Homo sapiens: one gene and its partner. The protein of the gene in region 2 purifies or fractionates together with the protein of the main gene of each other region. This does not show direct contact. Each region holds a gene or a part of one and is shown on either strand. Other genes may lie near its edges.

Region 1 (3,819 bases), on a different chromosome or scaffold from region 2:
AGGATAGACATGCTGGCCTCCCCATCCCCAGGCTGGGCCATGGCCCCCCGCCCCCAACCCGCCTTGGGGCTGCTGGGTGCGGCCAGCCGGGCGCAGGGATAGAGCTGGGCTGCTACCCGCGCTGGGACCTGTCCGACGGCTCTGGCGCTGGCTCTCCCTCACCCTGGCCCTGCTCCCTCCGGAGCAGCTGCAGCTTGGGCAGCCCCGCCCAGGAGCCAGTTGAGTCACCCACATCCCGGGACAGACACACCTACTACAGGAGTCAGCTTAACCCCTTCCTGCTCCTCCTTCTCCCCGCCCCGCAGCCCCCAGAGGCCCCCTGGCTCCTCCTTTCCTGCAGCCCCGCCCCTTGCAGCCCAGGCCCGGCTTGAGAAATAAATTTCGAAAGCCACCTGGCCCCCGGCCCTTAAATTCAGAGGCAGCCTGGTAGGAGAAAGGGCACTGGGCCGGGAAACGGCGCTGGCCCGGGCCCAGCCACCAACTTGCTGGATAACTGCACAAGGCTAACCTCCTCTGAGGCCCAGCTGCCTGTCTACAAAGCAGGTCTGGAGCTCAATGTTAATAACGTTTGTAAAAGCCAACACTTCTTAAGCACTTAGGATGAGCCAGGCACTATTCTTAGCACTTTAGACATTACAGCTCATTGAACCCTTGCCAACACCCTTGGAGGTAGAACTCATCTTGTTATCCACATTTTACAGATGTGGAAACTGAGGCAGAGGGCAGAAAAGTCACTCTTTTAAGGTCACACCTGGGCAAAGGAAAGCAGAGCCAGGAGATGAACCCAGGAGCCCACGCTCTAAATGGCTACACTATTTTGCCTTGAACGATATTCCCATAATGAGAGACTGAATACTCAGCACCTGCCACGCACTGTGCCGAGAGCTTTCCACCTCGATTTACCCACAATATAACTCTAAGAGGCCAATGCTACTATCAGGAAAGCACTCTGAAGCCCAGCAGTTAAGGTACGTTCTTCCCAAGACCAATCAGCTAGCGATTGCTGGAGCTGGGATAGAGCCTCACACGAAACCCCACACACACACCGTCCTGTGTGGCTCTGCAGAGCTACAATCTGCAGGTCCACAGCTGCCTTGCTCACTACCACAGCCCAAGCTCTCGACATGTAAAATCCATGTTCAAAGAATGAAGCCCACCCAAGCCCTGGCCTCTGTCCCCAGAAGTCCCATTCTCCCTATGCCCATTCTCACCTCAGAGCAGGTACTTGGGGACTGTGTGTCCTTCAGCTCAGCTCCAGCTCCCCGCCTTGCACCGCCACCACTGGGTGGTGGTGAAGCCAGGAGGTCGTCCAGCCAGCGGGAGCTGCTTTCAGGGCCTGGAGGCTCGGGGGATGCCCTACACAAGTCTTGAGCCTCTGTCCTGGCTTGGGTGGTCTCAGCCCGGGCTAGGGTCACGGCCTCCTCCTCAACAGGCAGTGCCTGTCCAGGCTCAGGGGCATCAGCAAAGAGAACACAGGGCTGGTCAGGGGCTGCTGGCTGCTCCTGCCCCAGGACTGGCTCCAGGATGGGCAAGGCTGCCTCCCTGGTAGCCAGGGGGAGAGGGGACTCCTGTCCAGCCAAGGGCTCCTGCGACTCGTATCTCTCCTCTGCCTGCTGCAAAGGTAATCCAGGTGTGCCCTCAGTTGTAGGCAGGGGCTCAAGGGGAACAGCTGGGAATTGAGGTTGACTCTCCCCATCGCCCTTCTGGGTGAGGGACATGCTTGGATCATCCCCCTGCACCCAGGAACTTCCTGACCCACTTGGAGCTGACCCAGCCCCTTGCCCCTGCTGAGACACTCCTTCTTCCCTGCTGGAAACGGCCAAGTTGCCAGCCTCAGCAGCCTCGGCGGCCTCACTGGCTTCAGTGATGGGGGAGGGAGGCGGGGAGTCCAGCCGCCACACGCCCAGACCCGAGGGCCTCGTGGGGAAGGTCCATTCGAAGGACTGTGATAAGCTCCAGTTGGACTCTGCCCCAAAGGGACGATCCAGGGCCAACTGGCTCCCCTGGCCTTGGGGCAGGGCAGCCAGCGAGCCCCCCAGCTTCTCCTGGTCCTGACTGGGTGACTGGAGCACACCTTCAGAGAATCGGCGCTGAACCAGGCTGGTGGGGCGGAGGTGTGCGTCACCCTTGGCCTCCTCCTCCCCGCCAGATGGAAACGTCCGAGTGAGATCCAGCAACTCACCCACCTCGATCAGGGGCCGGGGTGAGGTGGCAGGGGGCTGATCCAGGCTATGGGGCTCCAAGACCTCAGGGGGTGGGCTGCTGGGTCTGGGGGCCTCTGGAGCCCCCTCGGCAGGGAGCCCCGGGCTGGGGGTGTGGCGGGAGCCCTCGTCAGGCAGGGCTGCACTTGGAGCTGATGGAGTCACAGCGGGGCAGGGAGAAGCCTGGGAAGCTTCAGGAGTCTGGGCTTCCAGAAGCTGTGAGTGGCAGGGAGAACTCTTATCAGGCGGGTGAAGATGGGGAGAGCCAGGGCCTGAGCCTGAGGCTTCTGCGGGGAGGCCTGGGCTGGCAGGGCCTCCATTCTCTGAGGAGGGGGCTGGACTTGAGGGAATCCAGGGCTTGGAAATCTGCAAGAGAAAGAAAGGTCAAGATCCGTCACTCACCTCTCAGCGGGGCGGGGAGGGTCCCCTCCGACCCCACACAGACCCCAGGTCAGCTTCTCCCAGGCTGGGAGGAGGCAACTGGAACCCGAGGGGGTCCTCTTGGGATAGCTGGGAGGGGCCCCACAGACGACTCAAGGCAGGACTTCTCACAGAGCCCCCTTTAGACCTTCTTCCCCAGAATGCGCCTATCCTTATTCACAAAGCATAATTCCTTTCGTCTCAGGTGGTTGGAACCCCTCACCCACTCAACCCAAAGCTCATGTGAGGATCTCCTCAGAGGCCACAGTTCGGGGTCCATAACACCTGCTTTATAAAGGGAAAAGGAACATTGTGAATCTGGCTCTTGAAGCACCTCAGCATGTGGGAGTCGTGAGGGGAGAGAGGGTTTCGCGTCCAAGCAGGATTCGAGGTGCAGTGCAGCTACAGAGCAGCTCGGGGGAGTGGCTACAGCGTGCAGGGGGTGCCCCTCATGGCACAGAAGGTGCCAAGGAAGCAGGAAGGCTATGGGACCCAGGCAAAAGGCACTGGGGGGTGTGACAGCGCCTGGCTTGAGCCGTCCCAGCACTGCCTCTTACCAGCATGTGCCCTCCCTCACATATGGCAGACACTTGGTCTCTCTGAGCCTCAGCTTCCCCATCTGTACATTAGGGCTGGTGGCAACAATGCTCATCTCCCAGTTAGGTGAGGGTGAAGGGAAATGTGTGCACTGGCCCCTCGGCATAGGACTCATGGGATGATGGCGGCAGAGAGTGGGGAGGACGTGGAGAGAAGAGGGGGACAAACAAGGCACCAAGCACCTGGCACTCCACCTGTCCCCAGACAATGAAGTGACTCTGGCTCCATCTGACCTTTGCCCTCTGCAGAGGTCACACTTCCCTGGCCGCCCTCTCCCATGTCGTTAATTCTCCCACATCATCACCTACTAGGCCTGGGCAAAATAAAGGGTCCTGCTTGCTTCTCAAGGTCCCTTCTGTTCCCTCCATGCTCACTCCCCTCTGCAACGTTCTAATGTCAAAGCTCGTGCCCTTAAACTACAGCACCCACAATTCTTTCTTGTTATTGACCCTTACGCACCCATCATTCCTTGAAAACCATAACCGCTGCATCACTGCAACCCTCTCCATCATTGTTGTGATAGCTTACAGTCATCTCCATAGCCAGATGCGACCCTTCCAGCCTCTGGTTCGTTGACCTCCTCTTCCTCAGTGACTGTGCG
Region 2 (3,600 bases):
TGCCTTCTTTACCAAAACAAACACCACGAGCGGAGCCAGCACTCTCCCTAGGCGTTCTGCTCACCTGATCCGAGGGACTTCCATAATCAGCAGTTCCAACCCTTGCAAGCTGACAGTTCAGAGGGAAGGGGAGGCTGCGCCTGCTTGGGTGCATCGTGTCCAGGCCATATGCTGGATCCAGGGCCTGGTGGCCCCCCAAGGCCACGGCCTCACAAGGGCGATTGTGCGTTCATCCTTGTCCTGTGGGCCACCCATCCTCGCCCCTCGGCTCCCACTCAGGCCCGGGCGCCGTGGACCCCGGCCTGCCCTGCAGAATGCTTCGCACGCACAGCACCCACGGCGGCAGCCTCGAGAAGGGCCCGCAGAGCAGCGCGCTGCCTTCTGGGCACACCGATGCCCGCCCTTCCCTCGCTGGCTCCTAGGCGGCCTCCCTAGAAGCGGCAACTGAGAAGGCACAGCACCGGGACCACCCCATCCCTGATGGAGAGCTCCCCTCGCTCCCCAAAGGCTGCAAAGAAGGCGCGCCCCAGGTACAGGGAAGGGGACCCTGGGTCGTGCACCAGGCAGGGGGCAGGACCCTGATGAGAGGCTCAGGGCGGGGACCGAGCGGGGCTGACGCAGGTTACGCTAGGAGTGGCGAAAAGTCCAGGGAAGGGGATCATGGTGGGGAGGGGGCAGTGAGGTCCAGACGGGGGCCATGGGCGGAGAAGAGGAGGTCCAGATTTAAGTTCACAGAGAGAAGAGGAGATTCAGGCTGAGGCCACGGAGAAGAGGGGAAGCAAACCTAGGCCGCTGCAGAAGGGGCTGACCGGGGTCCAGCCTGAGGCCATGGAGAAGGCAAAGGGGGAGGGACAGAGGGAGGCAGCGGCCTAGCCTGGGCCATGGCAGGGAGAAACGACGGCCTAGCCTGGGCCGGAGAGACGGGGGAAAGCAGACCTAGCCCTAGACCGGGGGAGGAAGGGGGCCCACGCCAGGGTCACCGAGGGGGTGCCTGGCTGGGGACACGGTTCGGGAGGGAGGGTCTAGCCTGGGCTATGGGAGAGACCAGCCTGAACACAGAGGTAGTGAGTGGGACTCCAGCTTGCGCCAAGGGCGGGGGCTGGGAGCGGGGGCAGGGTCACTGCCACCCAAGTCGTCCGCGCCGGCGGCACCCTCCTGGGCGGGGAGGGACCGGGTCCACCCAGGGTCCGGGACCCCGCCCCTCCCCCACCCCGGGAAGCCACCCGTCCCAGGCCAGGGATGGGCAGGGGGAGGGGGACGCGAGCTCCGGAGGGGCCCCCGGGCCGGGGAGGGGGCCGTGCGGCCTTTACCATGGTGGCGGCGGCGGCGGCGGTCCCGGTCCCGGCGTCAGTGGCTCTCCCCCCCGCAGCAGGGCCCGGCGCTTCCACTTCCCCGGGTGCCCAGGAGTGAACATCCGGGTCAGCACCCCCCTCCCCCCGCGCCGGGCCGCCGCCACCTTCCTTCCCCGCCCCGGCCCGGCCCGGGCCCGCCCCCCACGCCGCCAGCTCGCGGCCAATGAGCGCGCGGGGCTGCGGCGATCGCCAAGTATGGAGAGCGGCGCGAGAGGCGGGCGCCGACGGGGTGCGGGGGCGGGGCCTGCGAGGCGGGGCGGGGCGCGGCGCTGCGCGGCGCGGCTGCCGGGAGTCCCCGGCACGGGTTGCGGGCCGGGGCGGAAAGGTCTCCTGGCTGTCTGAGGTCCAGTCCCCGACTCTGGGCCTGCAGCAGCGAGTGGCGGCGAGGGAACCGCACCCCACAGTCCCCGCGGGCGGGGATGCGGAAGGCACCGCGGCTGGGAGGGGACCGGCCCTCCGCGCCCCACCCCGTGCACGCGCTCACTCCTGCGGCGCACCCGGAACTGCCGCCGAGCGCGGACCGGCCCGGCCCAGCCCAACCCAGCCCAACCCAGCACTGGGGGAGCGCGCCGGGAGCGGGGCAGGAGCCCAGCGCTGCCGCTCGCTACGGCAGGATCTGGAGCGCCGCGCTGCACCTGAGCCCGGGCACGAATTGAGGAGCCTCGGGCTGACGCCATTTATTCAGCACCTACTATGTGCCAGGCCTTGTTTAGGCACCGGAAGATAACAGATAAGACATAAAGATCCCTGCCGGTATAGCTGCAGACAGAATATCTGTGAGGATGACACAGGTAGAGATTAGAAAATTAAGTTCAACAGGTCGGCCGCGGTGGCTCACGCCTGTAATCCCAGCACTTTGGAAGGCCGAGGCGGGCCAAGGTCAAGAGATCGAGACCATCCTGGCCAACATGGTGAAACCCCGTTTCTACTAAAAATACAAAAATTAGCTGGGCGTGGTGGTTCGCTCCTATAGTCCCAGCTACTCGGGAGGCTGAGGCAGGAGAATCGTTTGAACCCGGGGGCAGAGGTTGCAGTGAGCCAAGATCGCGCCACTGCACCCCAGCCTGGCGACAGAGCAAGACTCTGTCTCAAAAGAAAAAAAATTAAGTTCAACAAATGCTAGCTGTTATGAGTACTGTTGAATGTGCTACAGAGAACCATTCCATTAGCCCAGAAGGGCTTCCTCGCTCCACAAAGTGACTCAAGTTTCTCTCTCCCAATCTCTCTCTCTCTCTCTCAATCAAATATTTGTTAAGCTTAGTCTAGGTAGCAGGAGAGATCTGGATTGCTAACAATATCTGCCTCCGTGGCCTGTTTGCTTTGGTTAAATCAAATTAGGCGATCTGTGAGGGGATGGTAAACTGCACAGATGACAGGAATTGTTTCCCTGAGCCAGGCCCTGTCCTCAGGGAGCTCATAGACAAGTCGAAGCTTTCACAGGTAGCCACTGGCAGAAAAAGCATACGGGTAAGTCTCGCAAGAATGGTATTGGATGAGTATTACAGAAATTCAAGGAAGAGAATGGCACACGCAGTAGATACTTATTGAGCATCTGCTATGTGCCAAGCACTGTGCTAGGCTCTGGAAATAGAGCAATGAGCAAAATAACCCACATGGTTGTGGAGCTTGAGTGTTGTCAGGGAGACAGTCGGCCACCAGGCAAATACAGTGTCCAAGGCCAGGCACAGTGGCTCACGCCTGTAATCTCAGCACTTTGGGAGGCCGAGGTGGGCAATCGCTTGAAGTCAGGAGTTCCAGATCAGCCTGGCTAACATGGCGAAACCCCGTCTACTAAAAATACACAAAGTTAGCCGAGGCCGGGCGCAGTGGCTCACGCCTGTAATCCTAGCACTTTGGGAGGCCGAGGTGGGCGGATCACGGGGTCAGGAGATCGAGACCATCTTGGCTAACACGGTGAAACTCCGTCTCTACTAAAAATAAAAAAATTAGCTGGGCGGGATGACGGGCGCCTGTAGTCCCAGCTACTCGGGAGGCTGAGGCAGGAGAATGGCGTGAACCCGGGAGGCGGAGCTTGCAGTGAGCCGAGATCGCGCCACTGCACTCCAGCCTGGGCGACAGAGAGAGACTTCGTCTCAAAAATAAAATAGTAATAATAATAATACAGTGTCGGGTAGTGATTAGAGATAATGAGAAAAATTCAAGCAAACAGGTAGGCAGGCAAGGCCTAACTTAGCAATATTTGATCATATAGCTGAAGGGAAGGAGGGAGCAAGCCGTGTGGATAGCA

What was found. The genes of interacting proteins can lie anywhere in the genome.
Region 1: the proteins of CAPZB (region 2) and TNKS1BP1 purify together in Homo sapiens (co-immunoprecipitation; 5 studies listed by BioGRID and IntAct, with this or other methods). This does not show direct contact.

What each region holds. Positions count from the first base shown.
Region 1 is NC_000011.10:57,311,323-57,315,141, forward strand, and holds part of TNKS1BP1 (182 kDa tankyrase-1-binding protein), read right to left. Parts: intron 2,568-3,819; coding exon 1,212-2,567; intron 197-1,211; exon of another isoform or gene 42-196; coding exon of another isoform or gene 1-41.
Region 2 is NC_000001.11:19,484,126-19,487,725, forward strand, and holds the start of CAPZB (F-actin-capping protein subunit beta), read right to left. Parts: upstream 1,415-3,600; 5' UTR 1,314-1,414; coding exon 1,311-1,313; intron 531-1,310; exon of another isoform or gene 395-530; intron 171-394; exon of another isoform or gene 155-170; coding exon of another isoform or gene 65-154; intron 1-64. UniProt on the Homo sapiens protein: F-actin-capping proteins bind in a Ca(2+)-independent manner to the fast growing ends of actin filaments (barbed end) thereby blocking the exchange of subunits at these ends.